Regions from separate parts of the Homo sapiens genome. Here region 1 is linked to region 2. The links come from fine-mapping of genetic effects on gene expression. Tissue or cell type: whole blood. Region 2 holds a variant in brackets; the other region holds the start of a gene. All regions are shown on one strand. Distances are from middle to middle.

Region 1 (8,107 bases), 33 kb before region 2:
TGGTGCCAAGCTGGTTCTTGCCTTAAGCCAAAAGAAACTCCAAGAAAAATGAAAATAGTGTAAATAAAAACAAATCAGAAGACATGATTGTTGCACAACACTGTCAGTGTACTAAATGCCACTGAACTGTATGCCTTAACCTGGTTAATTTTATGGTACGTGAATTTCACCTCAAAAAAAAATCACATATATATATGATTCAGTGTATCTCTCATATAATGAGTTCTCACCTCATATAATGAGAGATACACTTAATCACATGCTAGATATGGACATAGCCAGAGTCTCCAAAATACAGGATGGCAAAAACTGACGTCTTCATTAGAAGTTACAGCCGGTCGCGGTGGCTCACGCCTGTAATCCCAGCACTTTGGGAGGCGGGCGGATCACAAGGTCAGGAGATCGAGACCATCCTGGCTAACACGGTGAAACCCTGTCTCTACTAAAAATACAAAAAATTAGCCAGGCGTGTGGCGGGCGCCTGTAGTCCCAGCTACTCGGGAAGCTGAGACAGGAGAATGGTGTGAACCCAGGAGGCAGAGCTTGCAGTGAGCCGAGATCGCGCCACTGCACTCCAGCCTGGGCGAAAGAGTGAGACTCCGTCTCAAAAAAAAAAAAAAAAAAAGAAGTTACAGAAAAAGTAAACAAAATAGAGCTAAAGAAAAAAAAAATCTAATATTTGCTGAAGTGCCTCAAAAATCAAGCTGCTCCTATGGGGGGAGAAAATGTTCCTTCAGAAGAGCCAGAGAAATAAGCAAAGCCATGATGGAATTTGAACTCACACTACCTTTCTACCAGATCAAACCAGACAAGTAACGGCTGTTCTGAGGATTTACGGTATGGCCTAAGGCCACTGTTAAACAACAAAGCTGCCAGAGTCAAAGCACATAATCACTCTTACTTGCCCTCGACCAGAGTGTGATGTCACTGCATTTCGGAGAAGGCCTCCCTGCACAGGACTATATATCCAGATTTAACATAACCTAGTTTCTACCAAATATAGGTTGTCAAAGTCCCTCCTCTCCTATATCTCCCTCCAGTTCCCCAAAAGAGAAACTGAGCAGCAAAATAAGATTAATACCTTGGGTAGAATAAGGTCAGAAAAAAATTAATAGGGTCTTAATTCAAATGGCTCTCTGGGAAGCTAAATTAGTTTGTAAAGTCACTAAACCCTTCTTTTCACAAAGTGGGACTTTACAAAGCTCAGTGCTCATAGTGAAAAACTGGCCAAAGTTAACCAAATTATAAAGCAGAAATGTCATTCCAGTAATCTTTTATTATAAAGGTGAGAGGTGCCAAATTCATTTCTAATCAAATATTCAGTAATAATGCAAAGACAATAGCATCATCAGGTATTACCTTGCTCATAAGAAATTATGAGACACAAAAGCTAAAATCACCTGTGATTTCTATTTAAACATAACAGACTACAAAGTAGCTTCTTAATATTATAACGAAGCAAAGGAGTTCAAAAGTTTTACATCTAATTCTTAACCAAAATAACATTAAACTCTGGAAAACCTAAGGCTAGAAGGAAAGAAAGGACAAGAGAAAGGAGAACGTGCCCTATTTAATATATTCCTTGCTCAGCTTCGTTCAAACCTGTGCCTAAAAAGTTAGTATTTCAAAATATGGATCTTTTAAGGAAAGAAAGAATGAAAGAACTGGACTTCCTTGAGTTTCTTCATACACAGTCAGAATATTAGATTTATATTGATTTTACCACCCAGCTTTTAGTGAGGATGTTTGCATTATACATCATCCTTTCTGCTTCCTTGAAAGTTTCAACGGCTAAGATACTGCAAACAGTTCTCACCTTACCAGCACGCTTAGTCATCACTGGAATGTCTTAACACGTTTTCTTATAGAGCTGCACCTCCTTCATCTGCTGCTTTCTATTACTACTTTGTAAGTGTACCCTGAGGCTAAGCAATTGAAGTATACAAGGAAGGTAACTAATCATTTAAATTGATTCTCATTGAGACCACCTTCTTTCTTAGTCATTCTGCCTTTCTAAGCTTAATGCATTTACTTTCTTTTAAACCACAATGGTTATGATAAGTCTTTGGCAGTTTTCAAAACATTTTTTCTTCTCAAAAGTCAAGTTTGGCTGGGCGCGCTGGCTCACGCCTGTAATCACAAAACTTTAGGAGGCCGAAGCGGGAGGATCGCTTGGGCCCAGGAGTTCGAGACCAGACTGGGCTACACAGTAAGACCCTGTCACTAAAAATACAAAAATAAAATAAAATAAAAGTCAAAAGTTTAATGAAGCATCCGCGTGAGTTCAATAAAGGCCTGTCCCCCCCCACCCCACCCCTCCAATAGAAGACTACTCTTGAAAACAAGCAGCATGAACAAATGATTTGGATTCAAATGATAAGGAAATAACAGGACGTTCCAGTTTCTTTACTTTCAGCTTAATCTACAGCCTTTCCCAAACCAGACCATTACTGCAGAGCCCAGAAAAAGAAAAAAAAAAAAAAGATGCTGGGTTAAGATTTGCCCCCATTTGCTTCCCCCTCTCTTACATCGGGTCAATTCTGGAGGTTACTCTTTCCTTCCTCCAAGAGTAAGGAATGCCTCTTCTTTCCCCAGGTGGTCAAGATTCTAGCGATATGCTCCTCCATTACGGAGCAGGGAAGAGGTTGTCTCTTACCCTCAAGTTACCCGAGAGACGACGTTCGCCCATCAATGAGCAAACCTTTGAGGGAATCCCTTTTCCCTTTGGCTTGCTGGACACGTCTCAGCCTCTCAGTGAACGACGCCGAGCGGGGAAGAAAGACGGTTCCCCCCACGGCCTCCAGGCTCTATCAGCCACACCCCTGGCCTCTGGTCCCCCTAAACCCTCAATTCCGAAACACATCTTCCCCTCCTGCCCCCAACTACCTGCTGCCACACCCGAGGATTCCCTCACCGCACCACAGGCATCATGGTAGAGACCCTTTCTCCAACCTTTTCCCTCTCAATGGTCACACCCGACGGTTCCCTGCATCATCAACGGTCACGCTCTTAGGATTTCCTCGCCTCCGCCGGTCTCCGACCCAGCCTGGTGTTACCCTTCTCTCCGTCCCCGACCCCGTCAATTAGGGACACACCCTAAAGGCAACCGCCCTGAACTCACCGGAGGCGGAGGCGAAGGCGAGGGCGGGGGTGGCGGCGGGAGCCGGAGAGCACAGCCCAGGTGGTGGTGTAATGGTTTCCTGCCCGTCACGATTCTTTTCTAGGTCTAAGCCACTGCGCAAAACCCACTTTGCCAGGGACAAAGATGGTGGGCAGGAAACTCTGACGTCAGAGAACGTCGCCGCGTGACGTCATCGGGGTGCGCGGTAGACCTAGAAAGCCTGTGATCTCTTGTCGCCTTCCAGACCCAAAGATTTCCTTTGGTCCCGGCAAGCTAGCCCATCTGGGCCTCAGAGGATGTTAAGTGGCTACTCCAAAGGGATATATTTTAAAAAGCTGACAATGGATTTGTTTCCTCGCACAGAAATTCTCTGAAAAACGTAAACATAGAGATGATGAAATATCCTGTTCCTTTCTGAAAAAACAAAACCCCTCAGCTCATTTTCCTTCCAGGCTCAAGGGCGGACAATGGTGATATAGCCCAGGCCTATATACGGGCAGTGGGGCTAGAGGATAGTGCTGCACGTAAAAGAGGTTGAGGAGGCATTGGATGTGAGTTTGAATCCCTACCCTGAATGTGACTGAGACAGTTAATGTCTCATCAACCTTCTTATCTGTGAAATGAAGACAATGATAGTATCTCTCTCGGGCATGTGAAGTTTAAACCAGATAAATTAGGTAAAGTGCCTAGTATATAATAGGTGTGCTTACACAAAAGTAAGTTTCTTTCGGACACTAAGAGCTAGATTCCAGGACCTGGAACTGGAGAACAAGATTGATGATGTTAAATGAACTAGCTGTCCCTAAGGTTAATTTCAGGGTGTAAGGAAGGATGGAGAGCAAAGTGATGATTTTTCTCACATTTTGCCTATGAACTCTGTGAGTCAAAAAGTGTTTCAGTATTTTAAAACTTCATTCTTAAAAAAGTGATCAGAAGTACATTAAAATTTTGTATAACATACTCATGTATTATTATTTCCTCTGTTATTAAAATAGGGGAATAGGGGAAATTAGAAAGCCAGGTATAAGGTGAGAGAATGCAAACAGTTATGGTAAATCAGATAGCTGCATAATGTTATAGAATATTTTATGACAGAAAATTCATAAAGTGTTAAGCAAAAAAAGGACACCAAACAATACAGTATACAGTATGACTATATATGTATAGAAAAAAAAGGCTAGGATAGGCCAGGCGTGGTGGCTTACACCTGCAATCCCAGCCCTTTAGGAGGCTGAGGTGGGTGGATCACCTGATGTCGGGAGTTTGAGACCAGCCTGGCCAATGTGGTGAAACCCTGTCTCTACTGAAAAAACAAAAATTAGCTGGGGGTGGTGGCACACGCCTATAATCCCGGCTACTCAGGCGGCTGAGGCAGGAGAATGGCTTGATCCCAGGAGGTAGAGGTTGCAATGAGCCCAGATCTCGCCACTGCACTCCAGCCTGAGTAACAAAGCCAGACTCATCTCAAAAGAAAAAAAAAAAAAAAAAGCTTGGATATTCAGCAGAACGTTAAAAGTGGTTATTGCAGGATAGTGAGAGTTTTATTTTTCTTCCTAATATTTTTCTGTATTTTTCAAAGTGTTCTACAATGAACATGTATTTATTTCTATGTTGGGATGTGCCTTTTAAATCATATTGTTGAAAAATATGATACAGAAAAATGCTTTGAAATAAGAAAAAAAAAAAGATACAAAACTCTAAATCCAGAGGAGTATATATACCTATTAGTGGTTCCCTCTGGGTGCTGATTACAAATGTTATCTTCTTTATATTTGTTTTATTTTCCATTCCTTTCTCTGAAAAATGCATATATTTTAAGGAAAAATGAACCAATACTATTTTCAAAATATAGCATCAATCCGAAAGCTTTTCCAACTTCATTCTCTTCCACTTTTGGGTGAAAGTATGGACCAATCTCCCTTCTTTTCACCTTTTGGGACCATCACGGGCTCATAATCTAATGGGAGACCACTCAGGAAACTGTTGACATGATCCAGCCACACGATGATGGTGGTTTAAACAAATAACTGTTGATATTTATTATGATTTTATGTCAGTTACTCTGCTAAGTACATTTTTACATCCGCACCACCTGATAACCAAGTAGGTACTATTACTTCCTCTATTTTAAGAGATACAGAGAAGTTAAAAGGTAGAATTAAGATGGCTGGGCGCGGTGGCTCACGCCTGTAATCCCAACACTTTGGGAGGCTGAGGCGGGCAGATCACGAGGTCAGGAGATCGAGACCATCCTGGCTAACATGGTGAAACCTCATCTCTACTAAAAATACAAAAAAAAAGTAGCAGGGCGTGGTGGCGGGCGCCTATAGTCCCAGCTATTCAGGAGGCTGAGGCAGGAGAATGGCATGAACCTGGAAGGCGGAGCTTGCAGTCACACACACAGACACGCACACACACATACACACACACAAAGGTAGAATTAAGATTTGAACCCAGGAAGTCTGACACTAGGGCTGATAAGGCTTATGTTTTAGGTTAGGGCAAGGGAGGAACGGTGGTACTAGTCACTGAAAATAGGAAAATATAAGAAATGGCAGAAGTTTGGGGAAGAATAGGGAGGTGATGAGTTCATTTTATACGTTAGGTTAGAGTGAAGATCTCTACCCAAGAGGTACTTGATTATATGTGTCTGAAGATAAGGAATGATCTGGAGTTAAATTTGTGAACTGTGAGCATACAGATGATAATTCAATCTGTGGGCATGAACATTATTCATGAAGAATGTGGAGAGTGAGTGCTTGGGGTAGAAACAGATAAACCCAAGAATGCAAAGAGGACTGAGAAGGAGTAGTCAGAGAGGTAGGAGGAAAAGCAGAATAGTATATTTTAGGATGTTTTCAGAGTTTCATGAAAGTAGGGACTATACCAATCTGTTCACTCTTGCACACATGAGGCTAGCCCCATCACACACACACACACAAATTAATATATGTTGACTAAACGCATAAATAAGTGATCAACAATATTAGTTGCCATAGACAGGAGAAGGGCTAAAAAGTGTCTACAGGATTTAGTAACATGGAGGTATTTGATGTTATTGCTGAGAAATCAGTAGAGATATGAAGGCAAAAGTCATACTGCAGATGTTTGAGGATGGATTAGAAATGAGGAAATAAAAACAGGAGTTGCAGATAACTCATAAGAAAGTATGACCAAAGAAAGCAGAAATGGTATCTGAGGAAAACAGTGGCAAGGATTTTTTCTTTCTTGAGGCAGGGTGTTGCACTGTTGCCCAGGCTGGAGTGCAGTGGTGCCATTACAATTCACTGCAGCCTTGACCTCCCAGGCTCAAGCAATCCTCCTACCTAGCCTCCCAAGTAGCTGCGACTACAGGCATGTGTCACCACGCCTAGCTAATTTTCTTTTTTTGTAGAGAGGGGGTCTTGCCATGTTGCCCAGGCTGGTCTGCAACTCCTGGGCTCAAGTGATCCTCCTGCCTTGGCCTCCCCAAATGCTGGGATTATAGGCATGAGCCACCAAACTCAGCCAATTTTTTCAAGTTTAGTTCTATACTCATACATTTTCTCTACACTAACCCTTTAGCATACCATGGTTTTAATTATCTTTCTTACATATATGGCTCCAAAATCTCTTATCTCTAGCCTAGACCTATTCCCCAAATTTCATCACCAAATCGATAACTATACTGCTGGGTTAAATCATAAGGAATGGAGGAGGTTAGAAAAACCTGGTTACAGAGTTGGGCACAGCAGTTTACACCTATGATCCCAGCACTTTGGGAGGCTGAGGTGGGAGGATCACTTGAGCCCAAGAGTTTGAGGCTGTAGTGAGCCATGATCATGCCACTGCACTCCAGCCTGGGTGACAGAGTGAGACCGTCTCTAAAAAGAAAGAGAGAGAGAGAGAGAGAGAGAGAGAGAGAGAGAGAGAGAAAAAACTCGTTCAAGGTACAACTGCTAGCAGACAGAGGTAGATTTCGTAAAGATGTCATTAGAAAAATCTTCAAGAGGCTGGCCGTGGTGGCTCACGCCTGTGATCACAGCACTTTGGGAGGCCAAGGCAGGTGGATCACCTGAGGTCAGGACTTTGAGCCCAGCCTGGCCAACATGGTAAAACCCTGACTCTACTAAAAATACAAAAATTAGCCAGGCATGGTGGCACATGCCTGTAGTCTCAGGTACTAGGGAGGCTGAGGCAGGAGAATTACTTGAACCTGAGAGGAGGAGGTTGCAGTGAGCCGAAATCACACCACTACACTGCAGCCTGGGCAATAAAGTAAGACTCCATCTCAAAAAAAAAAAAAAAAAAAAAAAAAAAAAAAAAAAAAAAAAGGAAAAGGAAAAAAAAAGAAAAAGAAAAATATTTAAGAGCTTTGATTCATACCTCTCTGCTGTTCAAAAACTTTCATCAACTTCTCATTGCCTAACATGTTTGAAAGCTATTCTTCCCCCAGTTTCCTCCATCTATGTGCTTTCTTTGGTTTTCTCATCTATAAAATGGAGGAAGATAGTAACATCTAATCATAATATTGAACAATGAAATAAATTAAATGTAAAGCACTTAGAACTATGGCTGGCATATAGCATGGACTATGGAACTATTTCCTGTAATTGTGATTATTTTAATAAATTGCACTGAGCTGCTCAAGCCAGAAACCTAGGGGTCATTCCTGATTTCCCTTTCCTTCAACTGCCACATCCAATCCATCTCCAGTTGTCAATTCTACCTTTAAAATCTCAAAGCCGTAGCTGGGCGCTGTGGCTCACACCTGTAATCCCAGCACTTTGGGAGGCCAAGGCAGGTGGATCACAAAGTCAGGAGTTCGTGACCAGCCTGGCCAAGATGATGAAACCCCGTCTCTACTAAAATTAGCCAGGCGTTGTGGTGGGCGCCTGTAATCTCAGCTACTCGGGAGGCTGAGGTACAGAACTGCTTGAACCCGGGAGGCAGAGGTTGCAGTGAGCCGAGATTGCGCCACTGCACTCCATCCTGGGCAACAGAGCA
Region 2 (8,107 bases):
CACCACCAAAAAAGTCATACCTCGGATTAAGGAAATGCTGCCTCATTATGTTTCTGCATTTGCCAACACTCAAGGGGGATATGTCCTCATTGGGGTGGATGATAAGAGCAAAGAAGTGGTTGGATGTAAGTGGGAAAAAGTGAATCCTGACTTACTAAAAAAAGAAATCGAAAACTGCATAGAAAAATTGCCTACATTCCACTTCTGCTGTGAGAAGCCAAAGGTAAATTTCACTACAAAAATCCTGAATGTGTACCAAAAAGATGTCCTGGATGGTTATGTCTGTGTGATTCAAGTGGAGCCCTTCTGTTGCGTGGTGTTTGCAGAGGCCCCAGATTCCTGGATCATGAAAGACAATTCTGTCACACGGCTGACAGCTGAGCAGTGGGTGGTCATGATGCTGGATACTCAGTCAGGTAAAGGGAAGTGAAGTCATTGTCCCCATCAGCAGGGAGGAACCCCTTTCTCTGCCTTTTGTGGGTATTTGATCACATATGTTAGTTAAAAAATAGAAATTTATTTTTCTTATAAGTGTTCTCCCATTACAGTGTTCCTTATCTAACATTTTTAGTTCCAAAGACTCAGAATATAAACTGAGGTCAAGAAATGTTTGGATTCTATGGCCTAAACAACTTTTTTTTCTTTAGACTCTGTCACCCAGGCTGGAGTGCAGTGGTGTGACCTCGGCTCACTGCAAACTCCACCTCCCAGGTGCAAGTGATTCTCGTGCTTCAGCCTCCCAAGTAGCTGGGATTACAGGCACACACCACCATGTCGGCTAATTTTTGTATTTTTAATAGAGATGGGGTTTTGCCATGTTGCCCAGGCTGGTCTTGAACTTCTAACCTCAAGTGATCAACTCACCTCCACCTCCCAAACTGCTGGGATTACAGGTGTGAGCCACCACTCCTGGCCAGCCTAAGCAACTTTTAAAGGAAAGTTACAGTATGCCATCAGCAATGAGTTAGGAAAGGTCTCCTTTTATTGTCTATAAACCTGTTGAAAAAATTGTGCAGGCTGATCATCCCAGTCAAAATTGGAATAGCCTCATTTTAGAGATGATATTCTAGAGAAACACTGTTTAAGAATAACTCTGAGGCTGGGCGCAGTCCTAGCACTTTGGGAGGCCAAGGTGGGCAGATTGCCTAAGCCCAGGAGTTTGAGACCAGCCTGGCCAAAATAGCGAAGCCCTATCTCTCCCCCAAATATAAAAATTAGCCAGGCGTGGTGGTGTATGCCTGTAGTCCCAGCTACATGGGAGGCTGAGGTGGGAGGATTGCTTGAGCCTGGGAGGTGGAGGTTGTAGTCAGCCAAGATCACTCCACTGCACTCCAGCCTAAGCAACAGAGCGAGACCCCGTCTCAAAAAAATAAATAAATAAAAATAAAAAAATAAAAATAAATGACTCCACTACTCCACTAATTCTTTCAAGCAAAACATTGTTGACAAATTTGAATTGTTTCAGTAACATTAGGAGCTAATAACCTTAAGCCACTGGGCTTAGGGCACCACCAAGTGGGGGAAAATGATGCAAAAGGAGATGCTAGGGCAAGGGGGTGCTGGGGGGAGCAGGACCCCTGGTGTTCTCACTTACCTTTCAGTTTTGATTGGAATCAGCCTTGGTGATTCCTAATCAATCCATAAAGGACTATAGGCCGAACTACGCCTATCTGCTTGCCTTCACGGCCAGTATGTTCCAGATTTCATCAAAACTTGAGTGATTGGAGAATTTTATTGGGTCATTCTTTCTCTTAATTTGTTTGAGTTCACTTCTCTTCTCCTCTCCCCTAAAGATCCTGCCACTTTTGATTCCATCTAACCTTAGATGGGGACATAAACAACTGTAACAACATTTTTTTTTTTTTTTGAGACAGGGTCTTGCTTTGTCGCCTAGGCTGGAGTGCAGCGGCACGATCTCAGCTCACTGCAGCCTCCGCCTCCCAGGTTCAAGCAATTCTCCCACCTCAGCCTCCCGAGCAGCTGGGATTACAGGCACACCACCACGCCCAGCTAATTTTTGTATTTTTTTGTATTTTTTTTTTTTTTTGAGACGGAGTCTCGCTCTGTCACCCAGGCTGGAGTGCAGTGGCGCTATCTCGGCTCACTGCAAGCTCCGTCTCCTGGGTTCACCCCATTCTCCTGCCTCAGCCTCCCGAATAGGTGGGACTACAGGCGCCGGCCACCATGCCTGGCTAATTTTTTTTGTTTTTAGTAGAGACGGGGTTTCACCGTGTTAGCCAGGATGGTCTTGATCTCCTGACCTCGTGATCCGCCTGCCTCGGCCTCCCAAAGTGCTGGGATTACAGGTGTGAGCCATCACATCTGGCCAACACCATTTTTAAAATACTGTGCTTTAATCCTTGCTGATCCCCACTAGATGCCTTTTCTTCTTAGAGATAACCTGGAGTCAGAATATTATAATTGAAAGGAAGCTTAGGGATTATTACTTCACTCCAGCGTGAGAGAGAGGTGAAATGACTTGCTCAAGCCGAGTCACACAGTGACTTAGAATATGTGTGATATGTCCCCTGTAGGAATCCCCAGACTTCCTTTCCTGACATACGTGAGCTGTCTGACGCATAGTAAGTACGACTGCTCAGGCACCCATGCACATCACAGGTCTCCAGTAAGAAGAGCCAAAAAAAGAGGCTTTTTTTTTTTTTTTTTTAACTTTTTATTTTTTGTCTGAAACAACTTTCCATGTAATTGTCTAGCTCCTCCCAGTTTGGTCACAGACTACAACTCTTGCCTGATTTCATCAGCTTCATCTGCACGAAAAAGTCCCGGATATCCCATAAAAGTCCACAAATTTAAGGAGGCTCTGCAACGACATTTGTTTCCAGGTATTCCCTCTTGATTTCAACTTAGGGGACTATTTGTTTTCTAAAATTGAGTTGGGAGGTGTTAGTAGTAATGAGTTCAGGTGTTTCTCCTTAGGGAAGGTCAAATGAAGGACTTAGCGACATAATGATCCTGAAATTTGAAATATATATATTATATATATAATATATATATGACTGAAAACAAGGGTCATATATATACTTATTTAAAATAATTATTAATATTTATTATTAATTTATTATATAATTATTATATATAATTATATATAATATTTATATATCTATATATCTGACCCTTGTTTCCAGTCATCTGATTCCCACTATTACTATTTCTGTGTGCCTTCCAACTTCTCATAACATATGGCTTTTGTTTTCCAAATTTGAGAGTGCAGGGAATTTCTCAGGTCTCAACCATCAAAAAACTGCCCCTAGCTTTCCAATGCAGAAGGAGCCATTGGGTTATCTGAACTTCTTCTAAAGCAGGGTTTCTCAACCTTAGCACTATTGTCATTTGAGTCAGATAACTCTTTGCTGGGGGAGGGAGAGCCCTGTGAATTGTAGAATACTTAGCAGCATTCCTATCTGGTACCTACTACATACCAGTAGCTCCCCTCCAATTGTGACAATAAAAAATTCTCAGGCCGGGCATGGTGGCTCATGCCTGTAATCCCAGCACTTTGGGAGGCCAAGGCGGGTGACCTCAACTGAGGTCAGGAGTTTGAGACCAGCCTAGCCAACATGGTGAAACGCTGTCTCTACTAAAAATACAAAAATTAGCCAGGTGTGGTGGCATGTGACTGTAATCTCAGCTACTCCAGAGGCTGAGGCAGAAGAATCACTGGAACCAGGGAGGCAGAGGCTGCAGTGAGCCAAGATCACACCACTGCACTCCAGTCTGGGTGACAGCGAGACTCCGTCTCACAAAAAAAGAAAAAATTTTCCAGACATTGCCAAATGTCCGTGGGGATGGGGGAGAGTTGGGGAGTAAAACTGCTCCTGATTAAGAATCACAATTCTAAAGGAAAGCTCTTATTTTCCCAAATGCACCAGGTATCATTTTTTTCTGCAACGTTGCAGGAATACTTACCACATGCTTTTGTAAGTTTTGGTAACATCTATTCCTTGAATTTTCAGTGACACAGGAAGAGGTACAATTTAAACCAGAATCCCTCTGTAAGAAGCTGTTCTCAGATCATAAAGAACTGGAGGGTTTAATGAAGACCCTGATACATCCTTGTTCTCAGGGGATTGTGATATTTTCTAGAAGCTGGGCTGGTGATGTTGGCTTCAGGAAAGAACAGAATGTCCTGTGTGATGCTCTCCTGATAGCAGTTAACAGCCCCGTGGTACTCTATACAATCTTAATAGACCCCAATTGGCCTGGAGGACTTGAATATGCCCGAAACACAGCTCATCAGTTAAAGCAGAAACTGCAAACTGTTGGTGGTTACACAGGGAAAGTGTGCATCATTCCAAGGCTGATACACCTGAGCAGCACACAGAGTAGACCTGGTGAGATCCCCCTGCGTTACCCCAGGTCCTACAGGCTTGCTGATGAGGAGGAAATGGAAGACTTGCTGCAGGCTCTGGTGGTGGTCTCCCTGTCCTCCAGATCTCTTCTGAGTGACCAGATGGGCTGTGAATTTTTCAACTTGCTCATAATGGAGCAGAGCCAGTTGCTTTCTGAGAGTCTTCAGAAGACACGTGAATTATTCATCTACTGCTTTCCAGGAGTCAGGAAGACAGCCCTAGCCATAAAGATCATGGAGAAAATTAAGGACTTGTTTCACTGCAAACCAAAAGAGATCCTCTATGTTTGTGAAAGCGACTCCCTAAAGGATTTTGTGACGTAAGAGTTTTACCAACTACACACACACAAAAATATGTATGTGTATATATATATGTGTATATATATGTGTATATATAT[G/ATG]TGTATATATATATGTATATATATGTGTATATATATACACATATATATATATTCTTTTTGCAGTTGCAAGATTTAATAGAGTGAAAACAGAGCTCCCATACAAAGGGAGGGGACCCAAAGAGGGTAGCCGTTGCCAGCTTGAATGCCTGGGTTTATATCCCGATCATTGTCCCTCCTGCTGTGCTCTCAGGCAATAGATGATTGGCTATTTCTTTACCTCTTGTTTTTGCCTAATTAGCATTTTAGTGAGCTCTCTTTCTTATCTGATTGGTCGGGTGTGAGCTAAGTTGCAAGCCCCATGTTTAAAGGTGGAAGTGGTCACCTTCCCAGCTAGGCTTAGGGATTTTTAGTCAGCCTAGGAAATCCAGCTAGTCCTGTCTCTCAGTGCCCCCCTCAACAGGAAAACCCAAGTGCTATTGGGGAAGTTGGCCGACCACCGCTCTAACTGCTTCCTGCTGAATTGGGGCGTAGTAGGGGTTCTGCAGTTGAGATTTCCTCGGGAGGGGTGCCTTTGATGTCATTAACATTGGAGCATGGGCTAGCAGGCCGGTCCAGGGGTCCGTGGTAGATTTTACTCATGGATTGCATCTGGGGCTCCATTTGAAGAACCATTTGTAGCTTTGCAGCTTCGATTCTGGAAGAGACAAACTTAACAAGGAGGTTAAAGATACAGGGTCCAATTAACAAGGAGGTTAAAGATACAGGGTCCAAAGAGGAGTAACAATATTATAGCTGCTAGAGGTCCTAAGAAGGGGAGAATCCGGGGCATCCATTGGCTGAGGAGGCCCCAGGGGCCAGTGTTTTGAAGCTCCTCTGCTCTACGTTGTATTCGATCTCGAATTTCTTTAACTTTTTGGTGACGATTCCGGATTGATTAACATAATAACAGCATTCTTCCCCTAAAAATAAACAGGTTCCCCCTCTTTCGGCGGCTAGCAAGTCTAAAGCTCTTCTATTTTGAACGACTACTGCTGCTAGGGAGTTAAGTTGATCTTGCAAGGTGACCAGGGAGTCAGAGACCCGTTCCATGTCACCATTTAGTTCTTGAGATAGTTTGTAGTAGAACTGAATAGAGGTTGTGATACCGCCAGTGCCAGTACCTACTCCACCTAGCACTCCTGCTCCGATAACAAAAGGAAGAATGGGTACCCTTTTGTTGCGGGGCTTAGGTACGACATGATTGTATAAATCTTGTTCAGTGTAGATGGTCATAGGGGGCGCTAAGAATGAGAGGAAGCATATAGATTCTGAAGAGCCATTCAAACAACGATAGGCTGAGGTACCACAGACAAAAAATATTCCTGAGGGTAGGCAGACTATTCGTGTGGGAAGAGTTACCCACCTGATGTGCTGGGAGTTGGTTGCACACACACACAAAAATATATTTAGTCAGTCTTTTCAAGAGTGTCACAAAAGTGATTTGTGTTTTTAGTTTAAGTTTTTGCAGTGCCTTAGTTGCATAAGTGCAAGAGCCCAAACTATATACACATTTCCAAATAATCATGGAATTGAGCTGTAAACAGGTAATTTATAATGTTCAACCTTAAACATCTCATTATAAATAACCCACATGTGCATAACTTACATTTACAGAACCAGAAACTTTTTTTTTTCTCACAATCCATGGCCTTACATTTAAGAGAAGTAGAAATGAACCCATTCTGCTTTAAGTATACTTTCTGTTTGATATGTAATGTTTTAAAGTCATAGGGTATTTCTGCTAATTAGACATTGTACCTAGTGAAACTTGAATTTAAATACAGTTTGATTTTGTTCATAAAATATTTTCATTTTTGACTTGTTCTGCATCAGTAATTTTAGAAAATATGCAAATTCACTTCTGATTTAAATCTCTAACTTTTAATTTAGTAAAATGAATTGGTCATTATAGAATTCAGCAAAAGAGGGCAAAATCATTATGATTTTTGGCTTGGTTTTGTTATTCAATAAATCTTTTTGAGCACTGTTGATGTGGTATCTACTGTGCTACATTTAGTGTTAGAGGAGAAAACATATTGAAGACCTTGCCATAAAAAAAACAATGTGAGTATTGTATAATAATAAAGACATGCTCATTTTAATTAACTAATTAATTAATTTATTTTTGAGACGGAGTCTTGCTGTGTCAACCAGGCTGGAGTGCAGTGGCACGATCTCAGCTCACTGCAAACTCTGTCTCCTGGGTTCAAGTGATTCTCTTGCCTCAGCCTCCCGAGTAGCTGGGATTACAAGTGTGCATCACCACGCCTAGCTAATTTTTGTATTTTTAGTAGAGACGGGGTTTCACCATGTTGGCCAGGCTGGTCTTGAACTCCTGACCTCAGGTGATCCGCCCACCTCCTTCTCGCAAAGTGCTGGGATTACAGGCGTGAGCCACTGCACCTGGCCTCATGCCCATTTTAACAGGCTAGAGGTTGGTTGGTAAATATTCCCCAGTGAAGGAGACCATTGGGCACACTGTTAAGAAGTCAGCAGGAGAAGTGAATCAAATAGGGGAGGGCTTTCCAGGCAAAGGGCACAGCAAGTTCAAAGACATGGAGACACCAGAGAACCAGAATGGTAGGTCTGACTAGAGCTGTGCAGACTGTGGGTATACAGCAGGTGGTGATGTTGAAAAGGAGGTAGACGCCAGATTATCAGGGATCCTGTAGACTGTGCTGAGGACTACGTTCTTTATTAAGTTTCATAGCTAAGTTTGAAAATACTCCAGTCAAAAGGCTAACTCAACAAATATCTATGAAACCCTTAATGTGAGAGGGATACAAAGATGGCTAAGAATCAGTACTTTTATTTGAGTCCACACAGTCCAAACCAGAAGAGAAGAACATAGTTATGATTCAAGGCATAGGGAGTAAAGGCCCTAGGAACTGCATATGTAAAATCATGGAATCTGTAGGGATGAGTGATGTTACTTGGATCCAAATTAAAGGAGGCAAAAAACAACCAAATTCGTTCAGAAAAAATACATATATGCTAAAGCGTACTATAAAGGAAAATTGAGCTAAGTAAATGAGGTAGCTCCAAAGAGGCATAGCCCCATAGATTTGGTACCCTACTTGATGTGTCGTGGAACTCAGCATCCTCTTGATGTTTCTCTTACCAAAATCTAAAGAAGCTTTAGAGGAATTTGAACTAGTCCGTGCTTTTTTTGCACATAAAAATTATGATATGCATCGAGGAAACTGTTTTCCAGCTCTAAAGAGGATAGAAAGTAAAGAAATGGTAGTAAGAAGTGTAAGTTAACTTTGAGATTTCCTTTAGATGTAATGAACTTGTCTTCAGGATTGCCAAACAGTAGGAATGGATTACTAATAGACATAATACAATCTGTTACCTGGGT

Evidence for each region. PIP is the estimated chance that this variant, and not a neighbour inherited with it, causes the effect.
Region 1: it holds the start of AP2B1, and the variant in region 2 is fine-mapped to the expression of AP2B1 in whole blood (INTERVAL, PIP 0.98).

Annotation. Positions count from the first base shown.
Region 1 is chr17:35,582,443-35,590,549 of GRCh38, reverse strand. AP2B1 (adaptor related protein complex 2 subunit beta 1) reads right to left here and starts at 3,228. Exons shown (of 22, transcript NM_001030006.2): 1 at 3,122-3,228. RefSeq lists enhancers at 2,712-2,821, 2,083-3,282, 3,252-3,421 and a silencer at 3,052-3,171.
Region 2 is chr17:35,549,312-35,557,418 of GRCh38, reverse strand. SLFN14 (schlafen family member 14) reads left to right here. Exons shown (of 6, transcript NM_001129820.2): 3 at 1-416; 4 at 2,715-2,843; 5 at 3,975-4,689. LOC107985033 (a long non-coding RNA gene) reads right to left here and starts at 4,214. Exons shown (of 2, transcript NR_138032.1): 1 at 3,928-4,214; 2 at 1,870-2,821. The variant G/ATG (reference allele first, on the strand shown) is at 4,768.